Homo sapiens: one gene and its partner. Changing the gene in region 2 together with the main gene of any one other region gives a genetic interaction. Each region holds a gene or a part of one and is shown on either strand. Other genes may lie near its edges.

Region 1 (3,728 bases), on a different chromosome or scaffold from region 2:
CCAGGATGGTCTCGATCTCCAGACCTCGTGATCCACCCACCTCGGTCTCCCAAAGTGCTGGATTACAGCCATGAGCCACCGCGCCCAGCCGAAATTTATTTTTTGATATGTGTACTTTCTTACTTTACTGGGACACAATCACAGATGACCTATGTGGCTGATCTTAGGTCCACACCCTCCCAGAAGTCAGGTTTTAACTTTAGCCTCTAGTTCTGGAAGTTTCTGGCCTATCATAGATCACAGATCTATCATAGTTCGTATTTTTAGGCTGTCCAGTGGCCAAAGGACCCAAGCAAACAAAGACACTACCATTAGCAAGATATTCCAGAAGCCCAGAGCTCACCCTCCATTAGCTTGAACACAAAGGCCAAAACTCCCTTTGTTCAATTATTTACTATACAATAAGGACTTGGCATTTTCTACAAGGTGAAAGTCTAAAGGAAATCTGTAAACTCCAATCCAAGTCCTGTTCAGACAATATCACTTTCAACTCCCTGTCTCCAAATCTATATTCAAACACCAGTTCAGCTATCTGTTCATTGAGAACCATTTGAAAGTCCTGGAATCCTGCCATATTCCCAGGATGTCTAGGTTTTATTCCAAGTTAAATCCAGACTGCCACAAGGCTGAAATTAACTTGTGTTGGTCCCTGTGTTTACTGTTTGCTTAGTCTATTCCGTAACAGTATATAAGGAGTCCTTCAAGAAACAGCCACAGGAAACCTGCATCTGAATTTATGAGAAGGCTGCTATTCTGGACACCATCCACCACATCAACTCTAGGAAGAACCACTGAAGAAATTTCCTGAGACCAAAGTGCCATGAAATAATGGCAACCCCCAGGAAGTAATCTGTTTTATCTTCAAAAACAGGACATACCATGTAAATTATGATTTTCTTGTGACATTGGCTGTCAGAGATATTAGATGCAAGCTGACAGCTAATATAATCCACAGGATCCTCCAGCCATGCATGGTGTCACAAAATTCATAATTTAGTGTTAATGCTATGAACATTATATTCCTTATCCTACTATTTTGCATGATATTGAGTTTAAAAACTAAGCTTACTTCTCTCCAGATCCTGCTTTTTGAAATTTATACTTTTTATATTAGTGAAATTGATGTTTATAGGCTTCTACAAATCTATTATGGAACAAAGGAAAGAATAAAACAAACCAAAAGTCAGTTACCTGGGCCTGGATCATTTTCTTCTGTTCTTGGAAGACAGCATTCAACTGGGATGGTCTGTCTTTGTATCTTCTGGCCTTCTCTTCAGAAGTCTCAGTTTTCAATCAAGTGTGCCCCAAGAAATGGTGAACCCCAAATCCACTTCCTCCCTCTTCAGGTTATGTTTTTTGCTCCTGAGGAGTCAGAACCTGTGGGTTGAAGAGCAAATTCAATGTAAGTGGTACATTTTTTCCAGGCCCAGATACTGTCACTGCTGCTAGGCACTCATCTTAAAGCAATGCCCCCAATATAGTTAACTATATACCTTTGTTTGGAGCCCCAGCGGATTTTATACCTGTGGCCAATAATGTCTAGGATTCTTAATGTGGTGGAGGTATGCCTTTCCTCTGTGACGTTTCCGTGGAAGGACTGTGAAGGCAGGTAGGAAATGAGACCCACCATAGCACCAGCCTCAGGAGATGGTGAACTCTTAGGCAGATTAGTTTTAGAAAAGAGACAATCAGCAAGGAGAGGACCTGGTCTTTGTTTTCCTTTAAATCATGTGTGCTCCCACACCTCTTCAAAAGTCTTTGTACATACACCCTGTGAAGACATGTACTTCAGTTTGAAAGCCAATGTACTGGGCAAATCATAAGCATTGTCATAAAAACAGTACTGACAATATTTTAGGAGGTTTTAAATACATAAAAAGCTAAAATACACAATAATTTACTGGATAATTAGGTGGTGAATAAAGTTGACGTGCTCTAAGGTTTCTGTAGAATGGAAAAGTGCCAATTAGCAGAAGAATATGACAAAGGTTGCACACTACATGTAATCTCTAGTTACAATTAACACTAGTAAGTCCAGGCACAGTGGCTCACGCCTGTAATCCCAGCACTTTGGGATGCCGAGGCGGGTGGATCACCTGACATCAGGAGTCCGAGACCGGCCTAGCCAACATGGTGAAACCCCATCTCTATAAAAATACAGTTATTCCAGAAGCTGAGGCAGAAGAATTGCTTGAATCCGGGAGATGGAGGTTGCAGTGAGACAAGCCTGTGCCATTGTACTCCAGTCTGGTCAAAAAGAGCGAAACCTCGTCTTAAAAAAAAAAAAAAAAAAAAAAACTAGTAATTGTTTTAAAGTACGTAAGTTCCATGCCAACAAAAGGGGGAAATGTAATAACAAGAAATTCATCCAAAAGAAGAGAATCAAAAACAGAGCAAAAAGAGCAAATACAATGCATTTAGATAGCTGTTTTAAAATAAAATGTACTAAGAAAATTACATTACATTAAGTATTTTATGCTAAGTAAAAACAGAGCATGGATCCCAGTTAATTACATTAAATATAAATGCCTCAAAACTGTCAGAATGGATTAAAAATTAAAATCCAATAACATCTGGGGTTTATTTTATTTTATTTTAATTTTTGAGATGGAGTCTCACTCTGTCGCCCAGGCTGGAGTGCAATGGTGTGATCTCGGCCTCCCGGGTTCAAGCAATTCTCTGCCTTAGCCTCCCGAGTAGCTGAGTTTACAGGCACCTGCTGCAGGGAGCCGAAGGCTCGTGGCCCGTGGGACGTGACCAACTCAGCATTCCACTGGAGGCTACAGATCAAACAGCAAACTGTTTATCATGAATGCAGGATGTCAGCAAACTCATGACTGCTCCGGCTGATGAAGGTTTGCTGGAGGCAATCACTCCCTGGCGCCGTTATCTACTGCGACATCTAGAGAATGCAGTCTTGCAAGACTACTCTGGACCCCTGGCGCCGTTATCTACTGCGACATCTAGAGAATGCAGTCTTGCAAGACTACTCTGGACCCCTGGCGCCGTTATCTACTGCGACATCTAGAGAATGCAGTCTTGCAAGACTACTCTGGACCGAGCAGCTGACCCCTTCTTCCACCTCCCCTTCTCACTGTCTCTTTTGCCTAATAAATATGAAGGGCTGTGTAAAGCTCAGGGCCCTTGTCCCCTAGAGGCAAAGCGCCCCCGATCCCTTCTTCCAAATACACTCTTTTGTCTCATCTTTATTCCCGTGTTCACCCCACTTTGTTTAGTCCACCTAGGTCCGTGCAGGTTACAAATGGCAACCAGAACAGGGACTCCAAGCACGCCCAACTAGCAGCATCCAAACATGGGACTTCAAGGACGTGAATGAAGAAGGTCTGCTGGAGCAGAGGAACTGAAATTGACAAGGCGAAAGGGGACCCTGGGAAGAGTCTGCCGGCAGCAGATATAAGGTCAGTGCCCTAAAGAGGTACTGGGAGCAGTGCTTTAAAGAAGTACTGGGAAGTTTTCTGACTCAGGGTAACAAGGGAAAGAATTTGTCTATTGAAGAAAAACATTATGTGCAGTTGCTTAAAGTTCTGTTGAGACAGTCTGCAGCTCAGGTTAATTCGCAGACACTAACCTCCTGCAGAAGCCACAAAAGGTTATTACACATAACCCATCGTTTCCACAGGCAGGCACTCTTGATGTGGAAAATTGGGATACAGCAGGAGAAGGATTAAAACAGGCTCATCAAAAAGGTCTTAAAGTCGATTCTTCTG
Region 2 (3,500 bases):
CCCTGCTCCACCTCACCACCTCACTCTAGAACATTCCCTGGTTCCTGCCACTCCATGCCCCAGGATGGGAGTCAGGGACTTGAACCCTAGTATGCTGAGTCTGGGGTGTTCCCAGACGCCCGTCTGCCCACATCAGCAACGCTGGCTCCTGCAGGGGTGCTGGAATCTCTGGGAGTTGGAGGCTGTGCCTCAAGCAGAACCAAGCAATCAGGGAGTGCTTCCCAACTTATAACCACTCAAATGGTCCAGCCTCTTATTGGCAAGTGCAGAGCAGAGACTCCAAGGGATGTTATGCCCACCTCTGAGGGTCACCTAGCAGGAGACCTGGGCCCCACTGGCCCACTCCACCCCTCATCCAGCAAATAAACCCTGAGCACTGGCTAGGCCAAGCCCTGGGCAGAAGGCACAGGGGCCCTCTTCTTGGCCATCCCAACACCACTGGGCCCTGACCACATCTTCCAGGGCCAAGGGCTCCAGCCTGGGCACCTCCAAGCAGGCCTCAGGCAGACGCCTCCCTCCCTGCTCCGCCTGCGCTGACTGTCCAGGGTCCTGCATCCAGGTCTCGGCCCGTCCAGGACTGAGCCACACACAGCGAGGCTCACACATGATAAAGGCAGGAGCCGGGCCGACCCTGGACAGAGAGCGGGCTAGTGGTGCCAAGCCCTCAGAACCAGGGGCAGCAGGAGGAGCAATGCCCAACTCAGGTCCAATTTCTGCAAAACATTTTGTTCAACTCCCTTCCAGCTCTGATGGGCAAAGATAACAGAATCTCTCTGAACTATCCAGAAAGATCACTGCCTTTTATGGACAAGAACACTGGTCCCAAAGAGGTCGAAACCAGGCTCCACAGCCACCGAGGCACTCAGGCCCCAAGGCAGGGTTCTCATGACCAATACCCGCCCCGCCACCTGCCTTGTGAGGGTCTGCAGGGGACGTGCACCCCACCTTCACCTCCTGACTCACTGGACTCCCAACTGAGGCCAGCGGGGAGCATGTGCCCAGCGTGGGGCAGCCAGGTGGCGGAGTTGTCATTGTTCTGTACTTGTGGTAGGAGCTGGGCATGGCAGAGGCCCTTCCCAGCAGGACTCCTGCCCTCTCCCACCCAACCCCAACCCAGGACAGGCCTTACAGGCAGAAGTTTCAGCCCACCCGGGGGCTCCATTCAGGTCACTGGGACCTCCTTCAGAGAGCCCCCCACTGCCTGGAGCCTGTGTGACCTCATGAAGTGACAGAGCATCAGCCTCTCATTGTACAATGGGCAGGCAGCCTGTCCTGTTGTCACAGGGACCCACCAGGATGAGGTTGGCACAGCCCTGCACACCCTGGCAGCCACCTTCCCCGAGCCCCGGCTTCCCTGCGTGTAACACAGCTCTCACTCCGGCTCCAGGAGCCGCTCTGGCCCTGAGGAGGTGGCTAGAGCCAAATTCAACACAGATCAACCTGTGTTCATCCCCCTAGCCCTCTGGGGTCTTCCAGCCTGGCTTCCTCCCTGGCCGGGAAAACAGCAAGGGAGGAGAGGCTGTGGGCTCCAGGCCCCCAGCCAGCCCGGCTACCCTCCCACAGGAGTACCTGGCTCAAGGGCAGGTCCCAGAGAGCACAGCCCAGGCTGTTTCCTTCCCTGGATCGTTCATCCACTGTGTCTGGAACCCCAGCGGGCTCAGTGCACTCAGGACCCGCACGTCAGCTTGTCGGCTCCACACATGCAGCCCCTCGGGTTATGCGTGGTCTTGTCCCACGTGAGAAGGGAACACTGAGACTCAGAAGGTGACATGACCAAGCTGGCGTGGCCAAGCTAGCCCTTCCCGAGGCCACCGTCTCCCCACCCTGTAGCCCCCATCCCCACCTCATCTCTTCCTGGCCAAATCATCAGCGGTGCCCTTTGTCCCCCGTGTGCCTGTGGTGCAGCTGCTCCACTTGGCGCCAGCTCCTCGGGGCAGGGCTCGGGACTGTCCTGTTCCCAGTGGGCCAGAGCAGGCACACAGTAGGTGCTCCAGGGCTGTGGGCTCGGTGAGAGAGGAATGCTGGACGGGCTGCCCGGGGCCAGATTCCATACCACCTGATGACCTGGAGCTGCTCACCCCACTGGCACCATCACCCAAATGACCAGCACCCTCCCCTGCCCATTTACTGACCTTTCCCCAAAAAGGAGGCATGGCCAGCGTTCAAATTCCTGCTCTCCTCCCAGCAGTGACCCTGGCACGTCACTTCTCCCCTAGGGTCCTTCCCTGGCTCTAGGGCAGGACGGTAATATGAACACTTACCCGCCAGAGGTCTCAATCCTCTAGGATGAAGGGAGTTAAAATGCATCAAGTTTTACGTATGAGTCCATCACGGTCCTGACCAATGGCACCCACAGCCCAGATAATGGGGCCGGTTCTGGCTGTACCGCAATCACCAGGCACTGCCAAGGAGCCCCACCTTCACATGGCACGGGGTTACAGTCACGGCAGGGGTGGGGGTTACACATCAGGTTAGGCCTGCTTCCTCTGAGCCAGTGGCAGGGTTGGCGGGGGCAGGTGGCCAGGACAGGGTGGGAGAGGGGAGGCAGCCCCATCTGTCCCCAGCCAGGGTGGCCCTTGGCAGGCAACAGCAATGACTGTGCTGCATTTCCACTCCTTCTAGAAGCATAAGCCCTGACATGAGGGCACCCCTACATCTGGGGAAGACACCAGGAGAGGAGCCGGGGGGCATGGGAGCACCCCTACATCCCGGGAAGATGCCAGGAGAGGAGCCAGGGGACATCCCCACTGGGTAGATGAACGGGGGCTGCAGGAGGGAGGGGTGGCCCACGCACCTACCCCGGGTAGATGAACGGGGGCTGCAGGAGGGAGGGGTGGCCCACGCACCTTCCCCAGGTAGATGAACGGGGGCTGCAGGAGGGAGGGGTGGCCCATGCACCTATCCTGGGTAGATGAACGGGGGCTGCAGGAGGGAGGGGTGGCCCACGCACCTAAGGGGAAGTGGGGGTGCACTGGGCAATGGCCCCCAGTTCCCCTCCAGGAGGAAGGTAAACCTGAGGGCCCACTCTCAGGACCCCAGCTGAGCCCTGAGCCATGTGGTCATCCCTGACCCTCAGTTCCGCTTCCAAACCAGGAGGCTGCCACTAAAGCAGCCCAAGACTGAGTGGCACGTGCCTGGCGGGAAGCGATGCCCCACCTAGGGGTCCTTAGGGCCACACCCTTGGCTGGGAGGAACAGCCTGTCCTTATTTTCTGAACTGTCTTTTGTACAACAGCCTTGGCGCAGCTCAAAGGATAAGTGAGGTTCTCAGGGTCCTGACCTGAGGCGCCCCAAGGAGGGGAGACACGCGCACACTCTCTGCCAGGTGAACGCCTACTGGGCCATCGGAACCCACAGCTCGTGCCCCACCCACACTGGCACGGGCTGTGTCCACGTAGCCCTGATCCCGCTCGGCTAAAGAGCGCAGCTCTCAGCTGCCGTAGGTAGCTGCCAGGACCCTCCACCCTCTGCTCAGGCTCCTGGGTGGAAGGAAGCACCCGT

The links. Genes that interact genetically often act in the same process or in processes that back each other up.
Region 1: changes in PTP4A3 (region 2) and ZNF350 together harm fitness less than expected from each alone (positive genetic interaction), as found in Homo sapiens cells (one study listed by BioGRID).

The regions. Positions count from the first base shown.
Region 1 is NC_000019.10:51,973,155-51,976,882, forward strand, and holds part of ZNF350 (zinc finger protein 350), read right to left. Parts: intron 3,420-3,728; exon of another isoform or gene 3,237-3,419; intron 1,772-3,236; exon of another isoform or gene 1,524-1,771; intron 1,378-1,523; 5' UTR 1,207-1,377; coding exon 1,192-1,206; intron 1-1,191. UniProt on the Homo sapiens protein: Transcriptional repressor. Binds to a specific sequence, 5'-GGGxxxCAGxxxTTT-3', within GADD45 intron 3.
Region 2 is NC_000008.11:141,395,021-141,398,520, reverse strand, and holds part of PTP4A3 (protein tyrosine phosphatase type IVA 3), read right to left. Parts: intron 1-3,500. UniProt on the Homo sapiens protein: Protein tyrosine phosphatase which stimulates progression from G1 into S phase during mitosis. Enhances cell proliferation, cell motility and invasive activity, and promotes cancer metastasis.